6 separate regions of the Homo sapiens genome follow, and regions 2, 3, 4, 5 and 6 are each linked to region 1. Evidence: fine-mapped expression QTL. A gene starts in region 1. Each other region holds a variant in brackets. All regions are shown on one strand. Distances are from middle to middle. Region 1 holds the start of STPG1 (sperm tail PG-rich repeat containing 1). Region 2 overlaps NIPAL3 (NIPA like domain containing 3). Region 3 overlaps GRHL3 (grainyhead like transcription factor 3). Region 4 overlaps STPG1 (sperm tail PG-rich repeat containing 1). Region 5 overlaps STPG1 (sperm tail PG-rich repeat containing 1). Region 6 overlaps NIPAL3 (NIPA like domain containing 3).

Region 1 (4,000 bases):
TTGCCAGACTGCCTGCCAGTCAGAAGTTGGCAGGCATTTCGCGCAGGCAAGTGGCTGCGAGGACGGGGAGTAGGCGGGACAGCCCCTGGCAATTGGCTGCGCTGCAAAGCTTGCTTGAAGCATAAGGGAGCGACCTGGGGCTAGAGCTTGGCGCTCACCTGGAGCGGGGACCCCCTAGCGGCCACAGGAAGAATGGTGCGGCGACTCCCCTGCCCCCTCTCCCGCTGTCCCAGAGAGCTTAGGTGGTTGCTCGCCTCCACCTGCCCGGCAGGTGGGCCTGGTTTTAGCAGCCTGCCAGGTGTCCTCCCTTCTTATCCTCATAGCCACCTTCCGGGCTTTGCTCCTGCTGTTCCCCTACCCGACGCTCTCACCAAGTATTCAAATCCAAAACGTCCTTGAAGACCCAGCGCTCCCCAGAGCCCTCGCGAGACTTGGGACCAAACATATCTCTCCTTTCCTGCCCTCCTGGAACACCTGTCGGATACCAAGCCTCCCAGCAATACTGAAGGTCCTGAAACGAGCCCAGCGCTTGGTTAATGTTTCTATAATGTACATAATTATCACGGCCATGATAATTAACATGCGCATGGAGTTTTACAGATGACAAGCTTCTCATCGCTCACACGTTGTCATATACACGCATTTGCTTTCAGATCGTCACAGCCATGAGTGAGACTTGAAGCCCGTTTTACGTATGAAGAAATGTCATTTGGGCCTAGACATCAACAATGAGAAAGAGGCAGTTCTAGTCTCAGATCGTGGGGCAGAGAAAGCTCCTTGGGAACATGGGAGAGGAACGAGTTGGTGCATTGTAGAAACTGCCCGAAGGCCAGCAGGGCTGGTGAGAGATTTTTCTGGGGGCGTGGTTGGGCCTGCGATCTGAGGGACGGGCCAGGGACAGTTTATAAATAACATATTTGGGGGCCGGCGCGGTGGCTCACACCTGTAATCTCAGGACTTTGGGAGGCCAGGAGGATCACTTAAGCCCAGGAGTTTGAGACCAGCCTGGACAATATAGTGGGACCCCATCTCTACAAAAAAATTTAAAAATTAGCCGGGCGTGGTGGCGAGCGCCCGTGGTCCCAGCTACTCAGGAGGCTGAGGCGGGAGGATCGCTTGAACTCGGGAGGCGGAGGTTGCAGCGAGTCGAGATCGCGCCACTGCACTCCAGCTGGGCGACAGAGCAAGACCCTGTCAAAAAAAAAAAAAAAAAAAAAAAAGCTTGGATTTCACCCTAAATTTAAAGGCGAGCCATTGGAGGACTTTAAGCAGGGGAGTGACAAGGTCGCTGAGACCGCCCTGCCCTGAAGCGTGTGAAGAGGGGCTCCTGGAATACTAAGTGGCTGCCCTTGTATAGTCGCCCATGTCAATTTTTTTTTTTTTCTTCTGTTAGAAACAGGGCTTGGGGCCGGGCGTGGTGGCTCACGCCTGTAATCCCAACACTTTGGGAGGCCGAGGCGGGTGGATCACCTGAGGTCAGGAGTTCGAGACCAGCCTGGCCAACGTGGTGAAACCCTGTCTCTACTAAAAATACAAAAAGAATAGCCTGGCGTGGTGGCGAGCGCCGGTAATCCCAGCTACTCAGGAGGCTGAAGCAGGAGCATCGCTTGAACCTGGAGGGCGGAGGTTGCAGTGAGCCAAGATTGCGCCACTGCACTACAGCCTGCTCGACAAAGCGAGACTCTGTCTCAAAAAAAAAAGAAACAGGGCTTGGATGAATGTTAATTCTTTTAGGTATATTCCTTGAAGCAGGATTTTTGAGTGAGCAAAATTCTGAGGCTTTTGGTTTATCACAAGATTTTTGAAGCATGGCCTAGATAAACCTCTTATTAGTTCCCCACCCCGCTACAGGCCCTGATGTAATTAACCTAAGCCCTAAAATTCGGCCGGCTTCTCTGCGGACTTTGAAACGCCTCTAATGATTGGTCAACAACTTTTCACGTTAAAGAAACAGAGGATGCCATTGGCTGGAGTTACCTCGCGGACGGCGGAAGGTGGACTCGCGAATGTTAGGCCTGTGGGTGCCATAGCGACCGGGAGGTTGGGCTGGCCAGATTCAGCTGCCGGGACCGGACCAGGTAGGAAGCAGTTCCGGCGGGGGGACCGGTCCCTGAGGTCGTGGGGAAGAGGACACGGCGCACCATGTCCTCCGCATGGGACGCCCGCGGAGACCCCCCGGCCTCCGGGTGCTTGCGGAATTCCAGGGCTGAGCTAGGTGGAGCCCCGAGGGCGGGAAGAAGCCACCATGGGAGTTGCCCCTGCGTCGGGGCGTGTCCTCGGTGTTTCCACCCGAAAAGTGGTGACAACTGGGGCTTGCCTGCTCCACCGAGCTCCTGCCAGGGGCGTGGGCGTCCGACCCTTCTGGCTCAGGCTCCGCGAGTGCGCAAAAGTTGGGAGGCTTCAGTGCCTGGCAGTGGGTGGACGCCAAAGACCTGATCTCTACTCATAGGTTCACCCCAGCTCAGGGGGTGTCCCCCAGCAAACGACTTCCCTGCTCTGGGCCTCGATTTACCCATCTGTAAAATAAAAGGGTGAGATTGGAACCTGGTGGTCACTAGCCCGCCGCTAAATTTCCTTCCAGCTCCCTGATACACTTTCTCAGCCTATGAAGACTATCGAATGGGTTATTTACCTGAGAGTGCTTTGAAAAAATGTAAGCTGCTTCCAAGATGCTTATAACTGAGTAGATAAAAATCGCCTACAGACGAAACTACTCAGGACATCCAAAAAAATTCTATCTAAAGTAACAGTATACATAGTTTAGTACATGTTTATATACCCTGTACAGTAACATGTATAATGTAAACTGTAATACTTAGCATATATAACGTTTTTTAAAAACACAAGAGATGATAAAATGAAACTGTGCCTATAGTTGTGATCATGTGAGCTGTCCTTGTAGAATCTAACTCCCGCTGGAAATATATTCTGAGCACAGCTGTACACACAATTGCTAAAAGGTGTCTACCTCTAGTATTCATTCATTCATTCATTCCACCAATATTTATGAAGAAAATACTAATTTTAAAAATTCTCAATACTATTATTATTATTTTTGTAGAGACAGGGCCTTGCTATGTTGCCCAGGGTAGTCTTGAACTTCTGTCTCAAGCCATCCTTCCCCCTCAGCCTCTCAAAGTGCTGGGATTACGGGTGTGGGCCACCATGCCTGGCCAATTGAGCAAATACTGTATGTGAGGAAATAGACTGAAGATTCAGAGTTGAACTTTCTACTGGGGAAGATCATAAACAAATAAAGTAATAAACATACAATATAATGTTGGGTAGTGAAAAGTGCTTTGAAAAAGATAAAGCAGAGTAAGGGGCTAGAGAGAGATGGGTTGGTGCTTCTTAAGAGAGGGTGGTCAGGGAAGTCATCCCTAAGAAGGTTTGAGCAGAGAGTCTCGTGAATTTTGTGACAGGACTGCAGGACGATGCCTGGGTCCGGTGAGGAAAGGAGCTCCCCATGCAGCAAGGAGATATGTGGCAAAAGCCAGGGAGGTCCCATGTGGAGAAGAAGATTAGTCTTTAGGTGGTGGGGCACGACAACTGCCTTCAAATTCTTGCAGAATAGTCATATAGAACAGTGGCTTTCAAACCTTTTGACTGTGACTCATGGTAAATGCATTTTATATTGTGACCCAGCATGCACACACGCATATGACAAACTAAAACTTCACAAAAGACTACAGACTATGACTTGCATTTTGAAAATCACCAATGTGGAAGAGAAATGAGACTTACTTTGAGTTGGTTCCAAGGGTGGGAATTAGGACGGATAGAAAAAGAAAAAAAGAGAGAGAGAATCAGCTTTGATACAGGAAGGAACTTTCTAGCAATTAGAACTGTCCAACAGTGAACTTCCCCCAGGAGTTTTTAAACTGTGTTCTGATGAAACCTAGCATTCTGTGAATATTCAAGAGAGTCAAATATTTGCCCCCACCCAGCCATCCCTTATTTGCTTTATATTTTGAAAACTATATGCAATATTGTAACTTCA
Region 2 (4,000 bases), 25 kb before region 1:
TGCCAGTAACACCAGCTCCTTGGTGCCCCCATGAGAAGCTCATTAGCTATCAACTTGCTACACACCACAGCTGCTTGTGAACTCAGACAGGCCGAGGGGATTTGGAGGTCAGTGGGGGGATCCACAGCAGCTGTAGAGGGCATCCCTGAGGCTTTTAAGTAATGAACAGTGCTGTAATTAGAGTTGAATTTGACAAAACTATGGTAATTCCAGCAGCTTTGCAGCAAGGCAAAGAGGGATGAGACCAGAGCCAGAGAAGCTAGCAGGAGGTCACTGCAAAGCCCAAGGAGAGACAGTGAGGACCTGGCTAGGAGGGCGAGGGCGGGATGGAGTGGGGCCACTGAATCAAGAGAAATCCTGGAACGGCCCACAAGGTATTGTCCCAGGTGCAGCCCAGGGATGCAGTAGGCAAGGCCCTGCAGAGAGGAGGCAGCTGGACCTGGATAAGACACCCTGACTTGTCTGCTGTGTCTCTGTCCCCAGACAGTGCTGGTAACTGAAACTTACCTGGAGGTTAAGTGCAATGCTGACCACGAGGTGCCCGAAGATCGCCAAGAGGGCGCCAATCAGGTTTTCCTGTAAGGAAAGTTCACAGGAGTGGACATGATTTGGGCACAAGCCAGGGGGCCCCAGGACACTTCTGACACTCAACCATTTGCTGCCCCAAAACAAAACCAGAAAAACAATATCAGTGACAAAGCCACACTCCAGACCCACAACTGGAATGTTACTACTGAAGGTTAATCTGGCTGCTTTGCTGGTTTACAAAATGCTGCCCTGAATTGGATACTTTGGTGGCCCGATCACACTGACCTGACAAGGTCTAAACCTGCTGTGCTATTCCCTTTAAAGTATTAACTTGCCACCATCTTGTGCAGAAAAGCAACATTCCAAAATCAGAATTTACAAGAGAAATATAGGCCAGAGAATACTTTTTGCTATCTTGTCAATAGTGTCTTCAATTTCCCAGAGGGTTTCAATGAAACTCTTTTAACTGGCTCACTTGCTTAGGGCATTGTCAATTACTCAATTTATAAAAAGTTAATTTACATCACCTATGAGTTAGGTTCAGACTACCTGGCACGGAATTTTGTACTTTCTAAAATGATTACCAAACATATATTCATTGTAGACTAAATAGGAAATATATATAGATAAAAATAATAATATCTTAGACAAGGTAGCATGAGAAAAAAATGAAAAAAATAACAATAACAACACCACCATAATAGAAAAGTCACTTTTAATTCTATAACCCAGAGATAATGACTATAAACATTTTGGTTCTTATTCCTGCAAACATTTTTCTGTCCATAAATTTACATATCAATGGAAATGTTAATTTACTTTATAAAAATAAGATTACCATCTGTTTTATAATCTGTTTTTTTACTTAACATATTGTGAGCACATTTCCCTGTCAGGCATACCTAATTTGTCATTTTTATTAAATGTCAAATAACTCATTATTTTTGGATGTGCCATATTTTATATCATTGCTTTGCTATTACTGGATATTTAGGCTGTTTCCTTTATTATTAATTTTTCATTTAACTTTATTTTAGAGTCGGGGTAAATGGGCAGGTGTGTTACATGGGTAAATTGTGTAATGCTGAGGTTTGGGTTTCTAGTGAACCCATCACCCAAATAAGTGAACACAGTACCCAATCGGTAATTTTTCAACTCTCACCCCCACCCCT[C/A]CCCGTTTTGGAGTCCCCCGTGTCTATTATGTTTCCTTTTAAAAAAACAATGCTGTGATTGAATAGCCTAGTGCACACATTTTTGTGCGTTTGTATGGATTAGTCCCTTGGGACAAATTCTTGTAAGTGGAATTGCTGGGTCAAAGTGTACTAGCATTTAAACCACACTATAGCAAGTCCCCAACACACCCTCCATCCATATTCCACCACTGAACACCAAGGAATGCTCTATGCTGGCCAATGCTGCAACCTCCTTCCCAGCATGTTCTCTTCCCAACCCCGCCTGGTTCCCCTCCCTGGTGAAATCCTGCCCATTCTTTAAGGCGGGGGACAGGCCCTAGGGAATCGGCAGTTAACAAGACAAACAGTCCTCACTGTCATATGTTCAGTCCATCTGGAAAGACAGATAATTAGCAAGCTGCCCCGCAGTGGCCAGAGCTGGCCGAGGCTTCCCCCTCAGGACACAGTCAGCAGTAACAGTGAAGTCAACCCTCCCCCCTGCCCTCTCCTAGATCGCGGGGCTTAGAGAGCTGAGGGCAGGTCTTCCCTGAGAAGGGGCAGTTGGCCAGGGACGGGAGAGGGCAGGAGGACCGAGAGGGAGGCCCACCAACTGAAATCACTATGGATAGCTGTCCTTAACTTCTCTCCCAACAAGGCTCAGCGCTGCCACAGAAGGGAAAGATGTGGAGCCAGGGGACCCCAGTCTAGTCCCAGCTCTGCCACAACCTCACCACACCTGAGATGTGTCCCCCACCTGGAAAAGGTCAGAGCTGGGAACTGATTCTGACTCACCCGATGAGCAGCAAGACAGAATAAAGCCACCTGCAGGCAGAACACGTCCTTCCTGTGGGATGACAGGATCTCAGAGCTAAAAGGCTCGCTGGAGACCTGCCCAGCCAGGGTTTCCCCAGCTGAGTTCCCAGAGATGCTAATGGGGTGCCAAGGCAAGAAAAGCACCATGTAGTTAAAGGCAATGCATCCTCTACCCACTGCTGGGAGGCCCCCAGAGCATGTTAGAGGCTCTCAGGGGAGTTTCTCCTTGTCTAACTCAGGTTCTCAAACTCATTTGGCTCTAGAACTCTTAACCTGGAATCCAGCCATCAGCATCTGGAGTAAACATCTATGACTCTCACTTGACTAACATTTTAATCCTTTCCTTTTCTTCTGATAAACGACACCCTGATTTTGCTGGGGAGGACTCTCCTCCGCCCCCTCCCCATTGGACACGGTCTTATTGGAACTGTCATTCCCAGTGCTCCATCCTCCCTAGACATCACGGCCCAAGTGTGACCCAAGCCAGGCAGCCCAGAATCTCTTTCTCTGGGATCCAGATCTTGGACTGAGAAACACAAAGGCTGAAGAAAGGTTGACTCCCTTCAGCCCAAGGTGAGGCCTGAGCAAATCATTAGTTGTCGCTCCTCAGGACCCTGGGGCCATCCTGGTTCCAGACCTCCTGGTTCCAGACCTTCCTGAAGCCAGGAACAGCCCAATTTTGCTTAAGAACTTGCTTCTGTTACTTGCAACTAAAAAGCTCAACAGAATCAGCACTTTGTGGAAAGCATTTTGGGACATGTTTATTATTAGCCCAACTTCTCATAAACATGAGCGAGGTTTTTTCTTCCCCCTTAGAGCCATGGCTTTGGTGGACAAAAAAGGCAATCTGCTTTTATTTTGTAAAAAGAAATATGTTATTCAAATTTAGTTTTTTGAAATAAAACCTTACCACAGAACTAATTATTATACATCTAACAAATTGTATTTACAAATATAATGAATCTTAGTTTCAATATTTTTTTGAGATGGAGTCTCACTCTGTCGCCCAGGCTGGAGTGCAGTGGCGCAATCTCGGCTCACTGCAAACTCCACCTCCCGGGTTCACGCCATTCTCCTGCCTCAGCCTCCCAAGTAGCTGGGACTACAGGCGCCCGCCACCTCGCCCGGCTATTATTTTGTATTTTTAGTAGAGAGGTGGGTTTCACCGTGTTATCCAGGATGGTCTCAATCTCCTGACCTCATGATCCGACCGCTTCGGCCTCCCAAAGTGCTGGGATTACAGGCGTGAGCCACCACGCCCAGCCAGTTTCAATATTTTAATGCTCCTTGCATACAAAAAATTATTTTATAACTTTCCATTTAAAAAGTCAATTATAGAACATCTGCTTCTGGGAAGATGGAGTAGATGTACTTTTCCCTATTCTTCCTGCTATGTACAACTAAAACCCTGGTCATCACATATAAGGCAAACAAAAGGCTGGGCGCGGTGGCTCACGCCTGTAATCCCAGCAGTTTGGGAGGCCAAG
Region 3 (4,173 bases), 70 kb after region 1:
CCATAAAGCAAGGCAATAACCCTGCTTGCCTAACTCTGAGGCTGTTGTGAGGTGACAAGTGACATAATTTGGGGTGAAAGCACCAAGTGAAAAGTACATTTTGTTCATAGGGAAGAAACTGATCATAACAGCAAATGATCTTCATAAAGTGCTTTCCCACTTACGAAGATTCCATATCCACACCGCCCTCCTCACCCTCTCGAGGCTGTTTTCCTCATCTGACAAATGTGTAGGCTGAGGCTCAGAGAGGTGAAGGGACTGCTCAGGGCACTAAGGCTGTGACTGACAGAGGGAAGGACACAAAGGCCCTTCCTAGGCCAAAGTGTCAAGGGGTGCCGGCCCCAGCTAGGCCCCCCAGTGGGGGTGTGTTGGGGAAGGAGATGGAGGGTTTTCATCCCCTAAGCCTCCAGCACAGCTTCCCTCTTCTCTCTGAATCTGCACCACCACAGACTCTTTTCCTTTCCCTTTTTACAAGCGGGTGTCTCGCCAGAGATTCGCCGACTTTTCACATAAAACAAACCCATAAAAACCCAGGCAGTTTCAGTGAGAAAGAAGCATGGATCTAGCTTGGGGGCTGGGGGCAGAAGCTGGTGGCTTCCTCCTCTGGCCCCACACCCTAGCTTGCAAGGAACAGGGAGAAAAGCAGGCTGGGGGCAATGGGCATGGTACAGTGGGCATGGTACAGAGGGCACAGGTGTAGAGGGGGTACAGGTGTGGCGGAGGCACAGGTGTGGAGGGGCACAGGTGTGGAGGGGGCACAGGTGTGGAGGGGGCACAGGTGTGGAGGCGCACAGGTGTGGAGGGGGCACAGGTGTAGAGGGGGCACAGGTGTAGAGGGGGCACAGGTGTGGAGGGGGCACAGGTGTAGAGGGGGCACAGGTGTGGAGGGGCACAGGTGTAAAGGGGGCACAGGTGTGGAGGGGCACAGGTGTAGAGGGGGCACAGGTGTGGAGGGGCACAGGTGTGGAGGGGGCACAGGTGTAGAGGGGGCACAGGTGTGGCGGAGGCACAGGTGTGGAGGGGGCACAGGTGTGGAGGGTGCACAGGTGTGGAGGGAGGCGTGTGGTTGTTTCTCTCCATACCTGTTGGAGCTGCTGGGTCCTGCCGAGGGGGCTGCCTGCAATGAAGTGAAAAAGACATTTTCCATCACACGCAGGAAAATGAGAGGAGCCCCTGGCTGCTGGAGGCTCTCTGGGAGGAATATTTTTGGTGGGAGGTGGGGAGAATACTGTTACAATGCCTTTCTAGCCCATTCTGCTCAGACAAGTGCCCTTAAGTGACCTGAGATGTTGAGTGGAAAGGAATCACCCAGCCCGAGCTGGATGGGTCAAGGACTCAATGAACACACAGGAGGTGCTAAAGCCATGTTGTCAGAGCAGAGTCACACTGAGCCCCACCTGGGCCCCAGCATGCCCAGAAGGGCTGGGAATTGCAGATGGTCCTGCGGCCGGTAACTAGGCAGTTGGAGCTGAGGGCCAAGGGAGCAAGGGCAACAGGGCTTTTTTTTTTTTTTTTTTTTTTTTTTTTTCTGGGGGGAAAGAGTCTCCCAGGCTGGAGTGCAGTCCCACCATCACAGCTCACTGCAGCCTCGACCTCCTGGGCTGAAGCAATCCTGCGGCCTCAGCTTCCCAAGTAGCTGGGATTACAGGTGTGTGCCACTAAGCCTGGCCAGAGGCCCTCTTCTTGGACCCTACAGTGTGCCTGGCACTGTGCGGTGTGGGGCAGGCATCAGTCAGTCTTGTGAGGTAAGAAGCTGAGGCCTAGAGAGAGCAGAGAGCTCTAGAGATGACACGCCCGGCAGGAGGCAGAGTCAGGGTTCAAACTCAGGCTCTCTGTTGGCTATTGCCCTGGGCTTCCCCTCTCCCAGGCTCACAGGTGTGGAGACTGGCCCACCCTCAACCCCCACAGGTTGACTGTCAACCTAGCCACAGGGGCCTTCACCCTGAGTGGTCATCTCCTTACTGAGGGCCTCTAGTTGGTGAGAGAGTGAGGAGAGCCAAGAGAGAACAGGTTCACACAGCCGCCTGTGCTGCGGGGCCACAGCGCAGCTCCCAAGATGGCAAAGAGAGGAGGG[A/G]CACAGACAGTGCTCTGCGCCTGTGCCAAGCTCTGTCAGCACTGGCCGCTCTTCTCAGCGCCACTGTCTACACCTCATTGTCCTAAGTCAATACACTAAACATGCCTTGTACACCAAGGTCCATTTGTATAAATATTCCTGAAGAAACAGTGCGGAGCTGTACCCTTAAAGGAAGGAAATGCTCAGACTCTCCAGTATGGAAGCGCACTAGGAGACAGGCTCTGGGGTCTTGACCCTGCCATTGAATTGTTGTGGGACCGTGCCTGGAAAAGGGGGTAGGTGCAGTCTCTCGGAGGACAGCTGTAACAGGGAACCCAGCCCACTCCTGGCTGCCAGGCGCTCAGTCCCGGCTGCTTGAGAGGCGGAGCAGCTAGTGGGGAAAGGTGTGGATTCTGAACAGGTGCCTCAGTCCAGATCCTGGCTCTGCCACTTACTAGCTGTGCAATCTCAGGAGGTTTCTTAACTTCTCTGTGCCTCCATTTCTACCCCACAGATCCAGGGAGACATTATTATTGACTTCCCAGGGCTGTAGAGAAGGGTAAGGACGGTGATGCCTGGGAAGCGCTCAGAGCCGCACCTGGCACACAGTGAGCACCACAAGTGCTGCCGTGAGAATTCCATGGGGCTGCAATCAAATTTGGGGTCAGATATCAGAAGCCTCCTCTTTGTGTGCCCTAAGCATGAACGTTTTAATGGTTACGAAATCTGTTTCTTCATAACATTCTTCTCTTCAATACAATAGGTCACTGAAGCTATAGGACCATATATACATGTTTAAACCCCTATGATTCAATAAAGGTCTTGAAACTGGCTGAGGGGCAGGCTGCTCCCCACTGGTCTGTGCTAAGGCAGGCCCCACCTAGGAGCCAGGACCCTCTCTCGGCTCCTTCCCGAGACCCCAGCCCTGGCCTCACCCCTCCAGAGCGCTGCAGGCTGGAGAAGTGCACATTGGGGATGAACAGCACGGGTGGCGTCTCCAGGTCAGTCTCTGGCCGAAGGTAGGTCGTCTCATTGCCCCTGAAGCCCGACAGCAGGCAGCCCTTGACGCCTGATGGGAGAAGGAAGCCAATGTGCCCCGAGGTCCCTCCACTCAAGTCCCTCCCACCTCTGGTCTCCTTCTCCCCTTCACGCCAGCCGAGCCCACCCAGGCCCTGGATCCCCACTGACCACTGTTGCTGGAGTCAGGGCACTTGACCTTCCTCCGGAACTGCTTCCGCTCGTCATCGCGCATCTTCCTCTCAGCTCCCTGCAGGGGAGAAGGAGAGAGGGTCACCAAGGGCCTGGGAGGGGCTAGCTACTTTCACAGCTGCTGCTTTGCATCTTAAATATGGGCCAAGCTTCTGGTCCTTCTTTTTTCCAGAACAAGACCAGGAAATGGGAAGGTACCAGCACTTACCTGGCCCAGCCTGGCCAGTGGGGCCTGGCCCTGCTTGCCTGAGGTCACTACAGGCCATGAGAGAGGCGGACAGACAGAAGACAGAAAAGAAGAAACTCAGAGAGACAGAGAGATGGAGGAGTGGGGGTGGAGGAGGAGAGGGGAAGGAGGAGAAGGGATAGAAAAACAGAGAGAGACAGACAACCCAGAGAAGCTAGGAGGACGCACGGGTCAGGGTTTGGCCCTTCTACCTCCCCGGGACCCAGTATAGGGTCTGCCCAGTCCAGCCACCTTGTCACAGAAGATCTTGATCTGGCAGACAGCACGGTGTACCAGGCGCTCAGTGCCCAAGCCACAGTCATAGGTGTCAATCTGCAGGTTCAGGGGGACACCCTTCACCCCCTTTTGTGAGGAAAAGTCTGTGCTCAGACAGTTTACGCCGATGAACACCTGGAGACAGAGGGGGCCGCTGGGTAAGTGGCCTGCCCAGGTGGCCAGCCCCACCGTCCCACAGTGATCCTGTATTTCTAGCTTTCTGTGTGCCTGCTGCTCACCCTTAAGCCTCACTAGGCCCCTAGAAGGCAAACATCAGCACTCCTCTTTCACAGATGGGGAAGCCAATGCTCAGAGAGGTGGGGCAACTTTCCCGAGGTGACACGGGCAGTGTGTGGTGCAGCAGGGGTTTGAACCCAGACTCACAGCCCAGGCTTTTCACCGCTGTTGG
Region 4 (4,173 bases), 36 kb after region 1:
TGGACAACAAGCCCCCTGGAGCTTTGTTTGAAGCAAACTCGTTGCTTAGGCAGTTCAGATCATTTAACCTTAGAAACAAGATGTGAGATTTTACTCAGAAGAAAAGCCTAGGCTGAGAAGAGCATCTAAAGCTTCCTATCACATAAATTACCCAACAGCTGATGAGTCAAGGGTAAGTGGCCTGGAACAGGATTGGGTGGAAATGCATTTATGGCAAAATCATTTTTGCCAAGTCCCAAACAGAAGATGAATAATTTGAGTTAGTTTACAGAAGCGAGTACAGGTCTGAACTTGCGTTTTCCAAGGGAAGATCCTCAAAGCCTGAGGTCAGTTTATCATTGTTACTGCCAGAGTTTCGCCTTTTATAAAATGCATTTAGACCTTGTGCTGGTCACCATCTTTTTGACATCTGTCCTTCAGATCCACAATATTATGTGACAATGCTGATTCCTTTGGTTGTCTCCTTACAGTGCGCCCGATTGGACACCATCATTTCTAAATACCCTGCAGCGAATGCATACACTATCCCATCGGATTTTATTTCCAAGAGAGACTTTAGTAATTCGTGTTCCAGCATGTTCCAGTTGCCAAGCTTTATGAAAGCTCTCAAGTTTGAAACTCCTGCACCAAACTATTACAATGTAAGAACTCTGCCTATGCTTGCTAAATACAGATCGAATTAATGGTTTACTAAAATAAAAGGAAGAGGGGATCTTGGGGACATCGTATTTTAATGCAGTTGTCAAGCCAGTTAGCATTTGTTGACTACCCAATGGGTGCCTAAGGCTGTACAAGACTCTTACAGGGAATTTGCAGACCCCAGAGATCAGGATGGGCAACATGGAGGCCAGTATCAAGCTGTGGGGAGGCCACTGCCCTGAGAAACACATATTCTAATTACTCTTGTCCTGTAACCTTTCTGGGACGTAGTTTTCTCATCTGTAACAATGGGTGTATTATTTACCACTTTGTCTGCAGCCACTAATGATTTACTTTTTAGGTTCTTCTAGGGAAAATAAACTTTCATATCAGAAAATAGGTGTTTTAACAGTCGTGCCCTGCTGTGCCAATTATGATCGCTTTGTATTCACTGACGCAGAATGGCATGGATGGTTAAGAGATGGACTCAGGAAGGTTTGGTTTAGCTCTCATCTGTTGCCACTTTCTAACTGTGCGGCCTTCGGCAAGTCCCTTAACCTTTCCAGGGCTTAGTTTACTGATCTGTAAAATGGTGATGTATGTTCACCTCATCGTGTTAATGCAAATATTAAATGAGATAATGTATGCTTCATGCCCAGGACAGCACCAGTCACACAAGGACCACACAATACATGGAGATTGGTAGGGCTGTCTTTGTTAGTACATGAAGGGTATTTACTTACCCTTAAATACAAGCAAGTAAGTAAGTCACAGCCCCCACTGTACAATGGAATCAATTCTACTTGCCCTACAGGGTTACCATAAGGCAACGAACGTGAAAGCACTCTGAAGTGCGCAAGATATGAATTGTACTTAAGACATTAATGTTATGCCATTTTCCAAACTATTTTGGTTTTATACATTTATTATACCATTTCCTTTTTTCCTTCATAATATTGATAATTAATAATTATTTTTCTGACTACAAAAATCCTGCCCACCTTCTATGATGGATTCAAGCTTTTTTTTGAGACGGAGTCTTGCTCTGTTGCCCAGGCTGGAGAGCAGTGGTGCAATCTGCAGGCTCCACCTCCTGGGTTCACACCATTCTCCTGCCTCAGCCTCCCAAGTTGCTGGGACTACAGGCACCCGCCACCACACCCGGCTAATTTTTTGTATTTTTAGTAGAGATGGGGTTTCACTGGGTTAGCCAGGATGGTCTCAATCTCCTGATCTCGTGATCCACCTGCCTCGGCCTCCCAAAGTGCTGGGATTACAGGCGGGAGCCACCGTGCCCGGCCTCATTTAAGATTTTCTAGTAGCCACATCTAAAAAGAAAAAGGGACAGATGAAGTTAATTTGAGTAATATAGTTTACCCAACAGATCCAAAATATTATCATTTCAACACTAATCAATATAAAAGTTATGAATTTTATATTTGAGGAAGACTATTTTCCTTGTAGTGAGTCTTTAAAATCCAGTATGTGTTTTATTCTTCCAGCACATTTTAATTTGGGCCAGCCACGTTTCCAGGGCCAATAGCCACATGCAACCTGTGGCTACTATACTGGGCAGTCCAACTCCAGGCAGTCTTCCCTCGGCATAATCAGAGCCTGAAAATGATGAGGAGGAGGAGGAGGA[GGAT/T]GAAGCACTTCTCATGTACTAAGTGCTGGTCTAAGAGTTATGTATTAATCATATTTAATACTCACAAGTGAATCCATAAAGTGGATTATCTTGTTCCCAGTATAAAGAAGAGAAAGCTAAGGCTCAGAGAGGTGAAGGGACTTGCACAGTTACCCAGCTTGAAGGCATCATTTGCACTTCAGTGGGCACCAGTGGATGGCTGGGGTGGAAAGCTGGGGAATGATCAAAGTCACCTCATTCCAGCCCTGACAGGCTTCCCTCTGTGGATCCTGTTGCTCCTCTGTGCCAGGCTGGTGATACAGCTTAGATTCCAGTGGGGAATTCAGAAAAGAACAGGTAAACAAACAAAATAATTACAAACTGTGGTCAACTTTGAGGGACAGCTGGAGCTTGAGGGAGAATATGTGGGAGATATGGAGGTTGGCAGTACCAAGTCAGCCTTCTCTGACTTGGTGGTCAGAGAAGGCTCCGAGACTGAGACCCAAGGATTGAGGAAGAGCCAGGGTTGGAGAAAGAGCATGTGCCAAGGTCCTGGTATAGCAAGGAGCCCAGCCCACGAGGACCTTCAGGAAGGTTGAGTGGCTAGTGTAGGATGAGCAAGAGGAGAAGGGAGAAGGGGGCACCAGACAGACACCGGCCAATTCACACAGGGCCCTGAAGATCCCAGGAGGAAGTTCACATTTTGTTCTCTGGGTCCTAGGAAGCCCATGAGTGGGGCTGGAGGTATGGGGTGGTGTGATCTGATGCTTTTTTTTTAGATGGAGTCTTGCTCTGTCGCCCAGGCTGGAGTGCAGTGGCACGATCTTGGCTCACTGCAACCTCCGCCTCCCCAATTCAAGTAATTCTCCTGCCTCAGCTGGGATTACAGGCACATGCCACCATGCCCAACTAATTTTTGTATTTTTTTTTTTTTAGTAGAGATGGGGTTTCACCATGTTGGCCAGGCTTGTCTCAAACTCCTGACCTCGTAATCCATCCACCTCGGCCTCCCAAAGTGCTGGGATTACAGGCATGAGCCACAGCTTCCAGCCAATCTGACATATTTTTTAAAAAGTTCCTTCCAGCTGCTGTGTGGTGAATGGACTGCAGTGTGGGTTGGAGAGTGGGTTCTGGAAAACCAGCGAGGAGATTATTATGCTAACAGGAGAGATGGCAAGGTGTGATACAAGAAAGTGATCAGAAAGGGGCTTAGCCATTGCCCCTTTGTCAGTCCCAAGTGGGAACCAGGCTACTTGGGAGAAAAACACAGGCACCGACTGTCTGTGCGGATGCCCCTCTCTGCAGCCTCCCGGTTGTAGCTGAAGGATGCTGCCGTCAGTGTTTCATGCACCATTCTCCCCGAATCACTGTCTACTCCTTCACCCGGCTTCCTGTCTCCAATGCCCAGCACAGGTCCTGGGATGCAGTAAGCATCCAATCAATGTTTATGACATCAAAGGAATAACTTTCCAGTAGTATGCAGCTGTTAATCTAGAAAGGACCTCTTCCCAAGATAGAATTGTGTCCTTCTGCCAATAGATACATTTAGGCGCATGTTTTTTGTTCATTATTGTCTTAATATGACCCTGAAAATAATACACGCTCATCATAAAATATATTCAAGCCCTGTAGAAACCCATTAATTAGAAAGTGGAAGTCCCTTATAATTCTACTTCCCAAGGGAAACCACTGCATCAAAAACCAGGTGCAGGCCAGGCACAGTGGCTCACGCCTGTAATCCCAGCACTTTGGGAGGCCAAGGTGGACAGATCACCTGAGGTCAGGAGTTTGAGACCAGCCTGGCCAATATAGTGAAACCTCGCCTCTACTAAAAATACAAAAATAAGCCAGGCATGGTGGCACACACCTGTAATCCCAGCTACTCGGGAGGCTGAGGCAAGAGAATTGCT
Region 5 (4,173 bases), 43 kb after region 1:
GCACCCACTCCACGGTGAGTGGTTTCCATGCAGTCTTGCAGGTCTGCCGTCATAGGTTCATCCACTTAGCCCTACTTTTCAGATGAGGAAGTGGAGGCTCAGAGAGTTGAAATGACTTGCCCAGTGTCACACAGCCAGTAAATGGCAGACACAAGCCCAGAGGGGTCTCACTAACGAGCCCACGTCCTCCATCATTCCATTGTCCCTTCTGGAACCTCCAAGATTCAGGAATACACAAGAGCTTTCCTGCAAGTGTTTCCCCTGCCGGCCTTGGGGAAGGGTGTTGCACCTCTCCTGTGCTCTCTGACCTCCAGTGCTGGAGCACTTATTATATTAGATTATCCCAAATAGGTCCCACAGACCACACCCCAACCCCAGAAGCCCTGGGCACCAGAGCTGCCCCAGGAACCTTGGGCCCCAGAAGCAGGAGGAGGAGCAGGGAAGGTTTGCTTCTGCAATCATGCCTCTTGCAGAGGGGTGTGGATAAAATTGTAGTGCATGTGAGATTTCAGCAAATCCAGATTAAAGTTGAAAAGATCAATCTGAAGCTGAATAACAAAACCAGCGCTAATTAGGAGGCTCAGCCCCAGTTCATGCTCTCCTGCCTTGCATCATCCATGGGCAAAACCCCACCTTGTCTATTTATACAGAAGAACAAAGCCAGCATCCCTGGGGTTGGCCAGAGTCCCTGCCAGTGAGCCCTGGGATGTGGGCACCTCCACAGTCTGCCCCTGCTCCTGCTCCCTCCCGGGGTGGGGGGATCCTGAGAAGCCCCCAGCCCCTTATAACACAGAACAGGAGGGGAAGTGTGGGTACTAGCATCTGTTAAGCTCCCCGTGGGTGCCAGGGGCCTTACATTCATTATCTCACTGAATGCTCCAAAGCCCCATGGAGCAGGTACTCACCACATAATCATGGGCTCAGAAAGTGTGAGCTCTTCTTCTTCTTTTATCCCCACTTCACAGGCAGAGGAGATAGAAAAGCAGGTGACAGGCCCAGTGTCCAACAGCTGGATTTTTTTGTTTTTGTTTTGTTTTGTTTTGTTTTTTTGGAGATGGAGTCTTGCTCTGTTACCCAGGCTGGAGTGCAGTGGCACGATCTCGGCTCACCGCAACCTCCGCCCCCCGGGTTCAAGTGATTCTCCTGCCTCAGCCTCCCAAGTAGCTGGGATTACAGGCATGCGCCGCCACGCCCGGCTAACTTTTGTATTTTTAGTAAAAACAGGATTTCACCATGTGGGCCAGGCTGGTCTCAAACTCCTGACCTCAAGTGATCCGTCTGCCTCGGCCTCCCAAAGTGCTGGGATTACAGGTGTGAGCAACCACGCCCAGCCCCACAGCTGGATTTTAATCCAGGCTCATCTAGTTCAATATCTGGTACCTTCAGCTCACCCTCCACCCCAGCTTCCTGGCGGCTGGCTCTCTCTGGTAGTGGCAGCATAAATGCCTTCTATTCCTTGCTTTTGCTTTTCATTGTTTTCTGTATTTTGTAATTCAAGTGTTGCTATAACCTTTTTAGTAGAAATATATATACAAAACAGAGAATATGAGAGATAGTTATCCAGTATTGTAAATGCTGCTGACATCTGCTTCTTTAAAAATTTAAGCATATACTGGGAACATTTTTTTTTTTTTTTTTGAGAGGGAGTCTCGCTCTGTTGCCCAGGCTGGAGAGCAACGGTGCAATCTC[G/A]GCTCACTGCAACCTTCGCCTCCTGGGTTCAAGTGATTCTCCTGCCTCAGCCTCCAGAACAGCTGAGAATACAGGTGCACACCACCACACCTGGCTAATTTTTTAAATATTTTTAGTAGAGATGGTGTCTCACCATATTGGTCAGGCTGGTCTCAAACTCCTGACCTCAAGTGTTCTGCCCACCTTGCCTTCCCAAAGTGCTGGGATTATAGGTGTGAGCCACCGTACCCGGCTGATACTGGGAACGTCTTTTCATGTTAGTAAAAATCCTTTCGGAACATCATTTTAAATAAATATATAGTATATTCTTATATGATAGTACCATAAATTAAGGAGCCAGTATTGTCTTATTGAAAATTGTGATTATTTTGAATTGATTGCTAATATGAATAGAGTGGTGGAGAACATCCATTCACAGGGCTACTGACAACTTAGGGGTGAGATCGCTTCCTCTTCACCCCAGTTTTGGTCATTCTCTTCTTCCTTAAAGCTTTGTACACAAATTCATTTTATTCTGTCACAGTTTCTTGAGACAGGGCATTGTGGTGTGGTGGGGAAGTGTGGGCTTTGGAGACAAGCAGACCAGTCTCTACATAGTGGTGCTCAACACATACATGTTAGCTGGGCATGATGGCTCACACCTGTAGTCCTAGCACTTTGGGAGGCTGAGGTGGGGGGATTGCTTGAGCTCACAAGTTCAACACCAGCCTGGGTAAAATAATGAGGCCTCATTTCTACAAAAAAAAAAAAGCTGGGCACAGTGGCTCACGCCTATAATCCCAGCACTTTGGGAGGCCGAGGCAGGCGGATCACGAGGTCAGGAGATCGAGACCATCCTGGCTAACATGGTGAAACCCCATCTCTACTAAAAATACAAAAAATTAGCCAGGCGTGGTGGTGGGCATCTGTAGTCCCAGCTACTTGGGAGGCTGAGGCAGGAGAATGGCGTGAACCTGGGAGGCAGAGCTTGCAGTGAGCTGAGATCACGCCACTGCACTCCAGCCTGGGCGACAGAGCGAGACTCTGTCTCAAAAAAAAAATTTTTTTTTTAATTTGCAGGGTGTGGTGGTACATACCTGTAGTCTCAGCTACTCGGGAGACTGAGATGGGAGGATCACTGAGCCCAGCAGGTCAAGGCTACAGTGAGCTGTGATTGTGATTGTGCCACTGCATTCCAGCCTGGACAAGAGAGCAAGACCCTATCTCAAAAAAAAAAAAAAAAGATAGTTGTTGATTGCATGATATTTACAAAGCATCCACTATGTGCTAGGAACTTAAAATATTATTCAACTGTCATAACAACTCTGTTGTCAGAAGAATTATTATTCTTAGTTTATAGAGAAGGAAAACTGGGCTCCAGCAAGGTGGAGAGATTTGTCTAAGTCCCTGGTTAGATGAATGTCCTTTGGCAAATTATTTAACAATCTCTGAGTCTCAGTTTCCCATGTGTAGAATGAAAGCAGTAATACTCATCTTGCCAGGCTAGTGCGAGAACTAAATCAGCTAAGTGTGTGCTTCCCGTGCCATCTGTTCTCTGCATGGTGAGGATTGTTTTTGGCTATCTCAGTCAGCCCTTCCACTTGGCCATCCTAGAGTGATGGTGCCTTGCAGCCATCAGGTGTGTTCTTAGGGGTAAGGTACTGCTTTTTATTTACTTGAGAAGAGTTCCTTATTCTGTCCTAAAATTTCTTTCTCCTTAGGGCATTATGATATCAACGAATCCCTTGTGAAGCAGTCGCCAAATACATTAATGTCTTGTTTTAAATCAAAAACCAACCGTGGATTAAAACTGACGTCAACAGGCCCGGGACCTGGTTATTACAACCCCAGTGATTGCACAAAAGTTCCAAAAAAGACTCTTTTCCCGTGAGTCCCAATCATTCTGGTCTTTCTTTTGAAAGGTGGTTGTGGGGAAGAAGCCCAACATAGAGAAAAGGATGGGGTGTCACTGCTTGGCAGAGCACAGTGCCGGGCCACTCTCTTCAGGGGCCCTTAGTCACACATAATGATGCTCAGTAAATGCCTGTTGAATGCCTGATACTTATTGAGCAACCACTGTGTGCCAGGAACTTAAAATTGTATTCAATTATTATTATAATCCTGTTGTAAGAATTGTTACTCTTACCCCATAGAGGAGGAAGCAAGGCTTCGGATTTGGCGGGACATTTGCCCAAGTCCACACAGCCAACTTGAGGAGCCACAGGGAATTGGCTCAGGACTAAGTCTTTCCTCATTCCCTGTGATGCTGGATTCCCCTGGTGCTGACATTGTTCTATTTTTGTAACATAAAATCTTCGCTGGAGTGGCAGGACATTCAGAAGCAGTCAAGCTCTCATAGCTTTATACCGATGGAAGTTTAAGCCCTGACTTTCGAGTTGGTGATACCTGCTGGATTTGTACTTCAGCTCTGCTGTTTTTATGCTCTGTGACCTTGGGCAGAGTTCTAACCTCTCTGAGCCTCCATGCCCTCATCTGTAAGGTGGG
Region 6 (4,000 bases), 41 kb before region 1:
CCTTGTGGCTTCACAGCATACGTCATCAGGCCCCCAAAAGAGAAGCAGCCCGAATGGCAGGGCCCAGCAGGAAAAGGATTTGTAACTCACGCAGCCTGATAGACGGCGGTTGCCACCATGCACACGAACATCACGTAGAAGATGGGGTAGTCAAGCTGCAGGTTCCCTTGAATGGACAAGACAAGCATCCCAGCCACGGCCTTGACTGTCACCACTGTCATGGAGCCTGCAGATGGGAGACAAGGGCGAATGGGGAGCCTCAGGGAAATGCAGAGAGTTAGGTCCGGAAAGCCAGTCTATAACCCCAAAGGACTTGGGGAGACAGAGGGGAGGGAACAGGAACAGAGTCAAGCCGGCAGTTTGCACAGTGACAGACGCCGTTTGCACTGGGTCTCGTGTGCACCTCTCCCATGGACTCCCATGCTCTGTGCTGACTACATCCTAAAGGAGGGAGGAAAGCCAACCCCCTGAAGGTAATCCTAGACATCACTTCTAAACTGCCAAGCATGGGCAGTAAGTTCAGTTCTCTGAGGCCCGGAGTGCCCAGCACTGTGGCCAAAAGGATCCGAGTGGATCAACGAACTTACCAGTCTCATGGCAACCACAGGAAAAACATGTGTTGGGTAAACAGCTTAGGAATTGTTGGGTTTTTTAGTGCTCAGTCACTTGTATTTTTTGTTGTTGTTGTATTTTTTTTTTTCCTTTTTGTGGACAACAGGGTCTCGCTATATTGCCCAGGCAGGTCTTGAATTCTTGGGCTCAAGCTACCCTCCCATCTCTGCCTCCCTAATAGCTGGGATTACAGGCGTGAGCCTCCGCGCCCAGCTGGTCACTTGTATTTTTAAAAACATTTCTCCAGTGTTTTGGAATGCACACCCCTGTGCATATGTGCAAACATTTCCAATATGTGTGTATCTGTTTTCAAATTAAAGTCATGTGACCCTGAACTTAAATGGTAGGCATGTTATAAAATTTGTACAGGAATATAATTTAAAAGGCAGAGAAAAAATGATTGAAGTTCTAATATTCTCTCTGTGTACCCAGCGAAGCATCCTGCTCACCTCCCTGTGGAGACCCTTGCTCCACCCTACTGTTCAGAAATGTCTTCTAACTGCAGACTTTCAGACTGCCCTGCCAAACAGGAGTTAGAGACAGCCCCCAAGCGTGGTCCAGGTGAAGCCCCCGGTCCCTGCTGCTGTGCTTTGCTTTCCTATTCTTCAGCTTTGGTTTATTTCGCTTTCTCCTGCCAACACCCCCAACACGCAGTGTCTCTTGGGCTCCTCACCCATTAGGCTACTGTTTCCAAACGTCAGCAACCACTTAGGCACTTGTCATCAGGTAGTCCTTCTTAGTCAGAAGGGGATTGGCCAATGGCCTCAGAACCTTCTGGCCTTCCTACGTAAGAGGAGAGGATGTTTCAGGGCCGTGATCCTTCCCATCCACTTTGAAAACAAAGTCACCGAGGAATGAAGGACTGATTCATGCTATGATGTGGGTGAACCTCAGAATCATCATGCTCAGTGAAAGAAGCCAGTCATATCAGGCCACAAAGCATACGACTTTATTTATGAAGGTGTTCAAAAAGGCAAATCTACAGGGACAGAAG[A/G]TAGCTTAGTGGTTGCCTGAGGCTGGGAAAAGGGGAACAGGGAGTGACTGCTAATGGGCACAGGGTTTCTTTTGGGGGTGACAAAATGTTCTAAAATTAGATTAGGATGATGGTTTCACAACTCTATGAAATACTAAAAACCACTGAATTGTATACTTTAAACAGGTGAACTTTATGGTATGTAAATTATATCTCAACAGAGCTGTTAAAAAATTAAGGAAACCCTGTCTTCGGTGACAGGTATCTATTTGGTTGATGGCTTGTGGCGGTGGTAGGGCACACAGTAGGAAGGTTGGAAGAAAAATGCACATATTAGCCACCTGTGCACATCTCATTTAACCCCCACTCCCTTCCGTGACTTGGATGTTCTCATAGGCCCCCCCTTTAGAGAAGTGGACAGCGTGGCTTAAGGAGGGAGGGTCATTAGCCTGAGGCCACTCAAGAGCAGCGCGGTAGCAGGCTTCACCAGCCCTGACACCAGCCTGCTCCTCCGCCTCTGTCTGCTTCTCCTCAGGAAGGATGGATTCCCCACAGCTCTATTTAGCTATAAAATTATATGCAGTTCTAGCCAGGTACAGGGCCTCATGCCTGTAATCCTGGCACTTTGGGAGGCCGAGGCAGGGGGATCACTTGAGGCCAGGAGGTCAAGGCTGCAGAGAGCTAAGATTGTACCACTGCACTCCAGCCTGGGTGACAGAGCAAGACTGTCTCAAAAAAAAAAAAAAAGGAAAAATTAATATGCAGTTCTAGCCTCAAGCTGATTCAGGAGCTATCTCTTCCACAGCACCCATCCCTCTAAAAGGAAAAGAAAAAATAGATGACAAAATCTAGTTTTACCTTTGAATCAGAATGAATCCCTAAGCTCTGATAGGTTTTGCATGGATCTTTTCAGGGCTCAATCGCTGGGGCATGCTCTACTACTACCGTCTCTGAAACAAACTAACTCACCTCATCCTCACTCTACTTTATTCTTCCTCATTGGAATTGTTATTGCCCAAACTTACATGACCTATGAATTTGGCTAGTTGTTTAGTGCTATTTTCTCCCTTTAGATTGGAGGCTCCTGGAGCACAGGAGTTTGCCTCCGGTCAGCAGGGACCCAGCTCCCCAGAGCCACTGATGGAGACAGAACAACCTCAGCCAGTCTCAAGCAACTTCTGTGCCCAGCGGCTACAGCTCTGCAAACAAAACCCACATTTCCATTTGGTGCTTCTTGGTGGTGGCAAAACTCAATCATCCAGATGCCAACTTACCAAGTAACGCCACCAAGAGAAGAATCACGACAATGTTGTTGGCGTTCTTCTCCTTGTAGAAGTAGAGCAGCAAGCAGAACAGAATGATCTCCACCAGCTGTGGAAGGCAGCAAGCAGGGGGGTCAGTGGGGACCACAGAAGTAGGCGAGACCGGGAGACCCTGGTGGGCTGGGCCATCACCAGAGTCACAGGGTTGAAAGGGAATGACTGAGCTATGATTCAGCATTTCCCAAACTACTGTTAGACGTTCAGGGGAAAAGGGAAACACAGAGTGAATCTCTCTAATCCCTGGCTAGTACTGAGAAGGAATTCCCTGTTGTCCTGAGGCTGAAGCTTTGAGGGTGACGTGCTGCTCTCATATCCACTCTTTCTTGGAGGGCCAAGATGCATCAGGCTGAGATGGTTTCTTCCCACTCCACTGCTCCATGGGCATCCCCATTAAAACAATGGGTTGGTCCAAGAGGGAGACACTTGTTCACCAACCTATTTGGTCAAGAATGTGAGGCCAGGCACGGTGGCTCACACCTGTAACCCTAGCACTTTGGGAGGCCAAGGCGGGTGGATCACCTGAAGTCAGGAGTTCGAGACCAGCCTGGCCAACATGGTGAAACCCGGTCTCTACTAAAAATACAAAAAAAAAAAAAAAAAAAATTAGCTGGGCGTGGTGGCATCTGCCTATAATCCCAGCTACTCAGGAGGCTGAGGCAGGAGAATTGCTGAGATCACGCCACTGCACTCCATCCTGGGAGACAGAGCGAGGCTCCATCTCAAAAAAATAAATAAATACATAAATAAAGAATATGAGTATATACTCCCTGTGCTCCCAGCCAAGCTTCCAGTGTGAAGCTTCACAGAGTAGAATGAGGAAGGCCTTTGGAGTCAGGGAGACCTGGGCTGGAACTTAGGTCTGCCTCTAAACTAGTCGTGTGGCCTTGGGTAAGTCACTTAACTTCTCTAAACCTTAGTTAACCCTCTGTGGAGTAGGGTTAAGAATTCTTTTTATGGGCCCATAATCATAGCTTACACTAAATGACGTCTCCTTGTACGCCAGGCAGTGTTCTAAGCATTTTATCTACGTTAAACTCACTAAATCAGCACAATAACTCTACGAAGCAGGTACTACCACGATGGCGTGGCACAG

The links. PIP is the estimated chance that this variant, and not a neighbour inherited with it, causes the effect. A credible set is the group of variants that fine-mapping cannot tell apart.
Region 2: its variant is the best candidate, but not a certain one, in a credible set for the expression of STPG1 in whole blood (INTERVAL, PIP 0.51).
Region 3: its variant is the best candidate, but not a certain one, in a credible set for the expression of STPG1 in gastroesophageal junction (GTEx, PIP 0.76).
Region 4: its variant is the best candidate, but not a certain one, in a credible set for the expression of STPG1 in thyroid (GTEx, PIP 0.79).
Region 5: its variant is the best candidate, but not a certain one, in a credible set for the expression of STPG1 in esophagus mucosa (GTEx, PIP 0.58).
Region 6: its variant is the best candidate, but not a certain one, in a credible set for the expression of STPG1 in whole blood (INTERVAL, PIP 0.78).

What each region holds. Positions count from the first base shown.
Region 1 is chr1:24,411,752-24,415,751 of GRCh38, reverse strand. STPG1 (sperm tail PG-rich repeat containing 1) reads left to right here and starts at 1,970. Exons shown (of 9, transcript NM_001199013.2): 1 at 1,970-2,078. It also overlaps a transcript of NIPAL3 not described here. RefSeq lists an enhancer at 2,355-2,474.
Region 2 is chr1:24,436,748-24,440,747 of GRCh38, reverse strand. It overlaps NIPAL3 (NIPA like domain containing 3), which reads right to left. Exons shown (of 12, transcript NM_020448.5): 3 at 508-576. Among named protein-coding and RNA genes, the nearest start is that of NIPAL3, 23 kb to the right of the region's middle. The variant C/A (reference allele first, on the strand shown) is at 1,701.
Region 3 is chr1:24,341,841-24,346,013 of GRCh38, reverse strand. It overlaps GRHL3 (grainyhead like transcription factor 3), which reads right to left. Exons shown (of 16, transcript NM_198173.3): 9 at 3,741-3,899; 10 at 3,242-3,320; 11 at 2,989-3,122; 12 at 1,083-1,117. Among named protein-coding and RNA genes, the nearest start is that of GRHL3-AS1, 22 kb to the right of the region's middle. RefSeq lists an enhancer at 2,641-3,455. The variant A/G (reference allele first, on the strand shown) is at 2,075.
Region 4 is chr1:24,376,121-24,380,293 of GRCh38, reverse strand. STPG1 (sperm tail PG-rich repeat containing 1) reads left to right here. Exons shown (of 9, transcript NM_001199013.2): 5 at 471-641. Among named protein-coding and RNA genes, the nearest start is that of STPG1, 36 kb to the left of the region's middle. The variant GGAT/T (reference allele first, on the strand shown) is at 2,282.
Region 5 is chr1:24,369,056-24,373,228 of GRCh38, reverse strand. STPG1 (sperm tail PG-rich repeat containing 1) reads left to right here. Exons shown (of 9, transcript NM_001199013.2): 7 at 3,390-3,555. Among named protein-coding and RNA genes, the nearest start is that of STPG1, 43 kb to the left of the region's middle. The variant G/A (reference allele first, on the strand shown) is at 1,690.
Region 6 is chr1:24,452,364-24,456,363 of GRCh38, reverse strand. It overlaps NIPAL3 (NIPA like domain containing 3), which reads right to left. Exons shown (of 12, transcript NM_020448.5): 7 at 2,860-2,956; 8 at 91-226. Among named protein-coding and RNA genes, the nearest start is that of NIPAL3, 39 kb to the right of the region's middle. RefSeq lists an enhancer at 39-551. The variant A/G (reference allele first, on the strand shown) is at 1,607.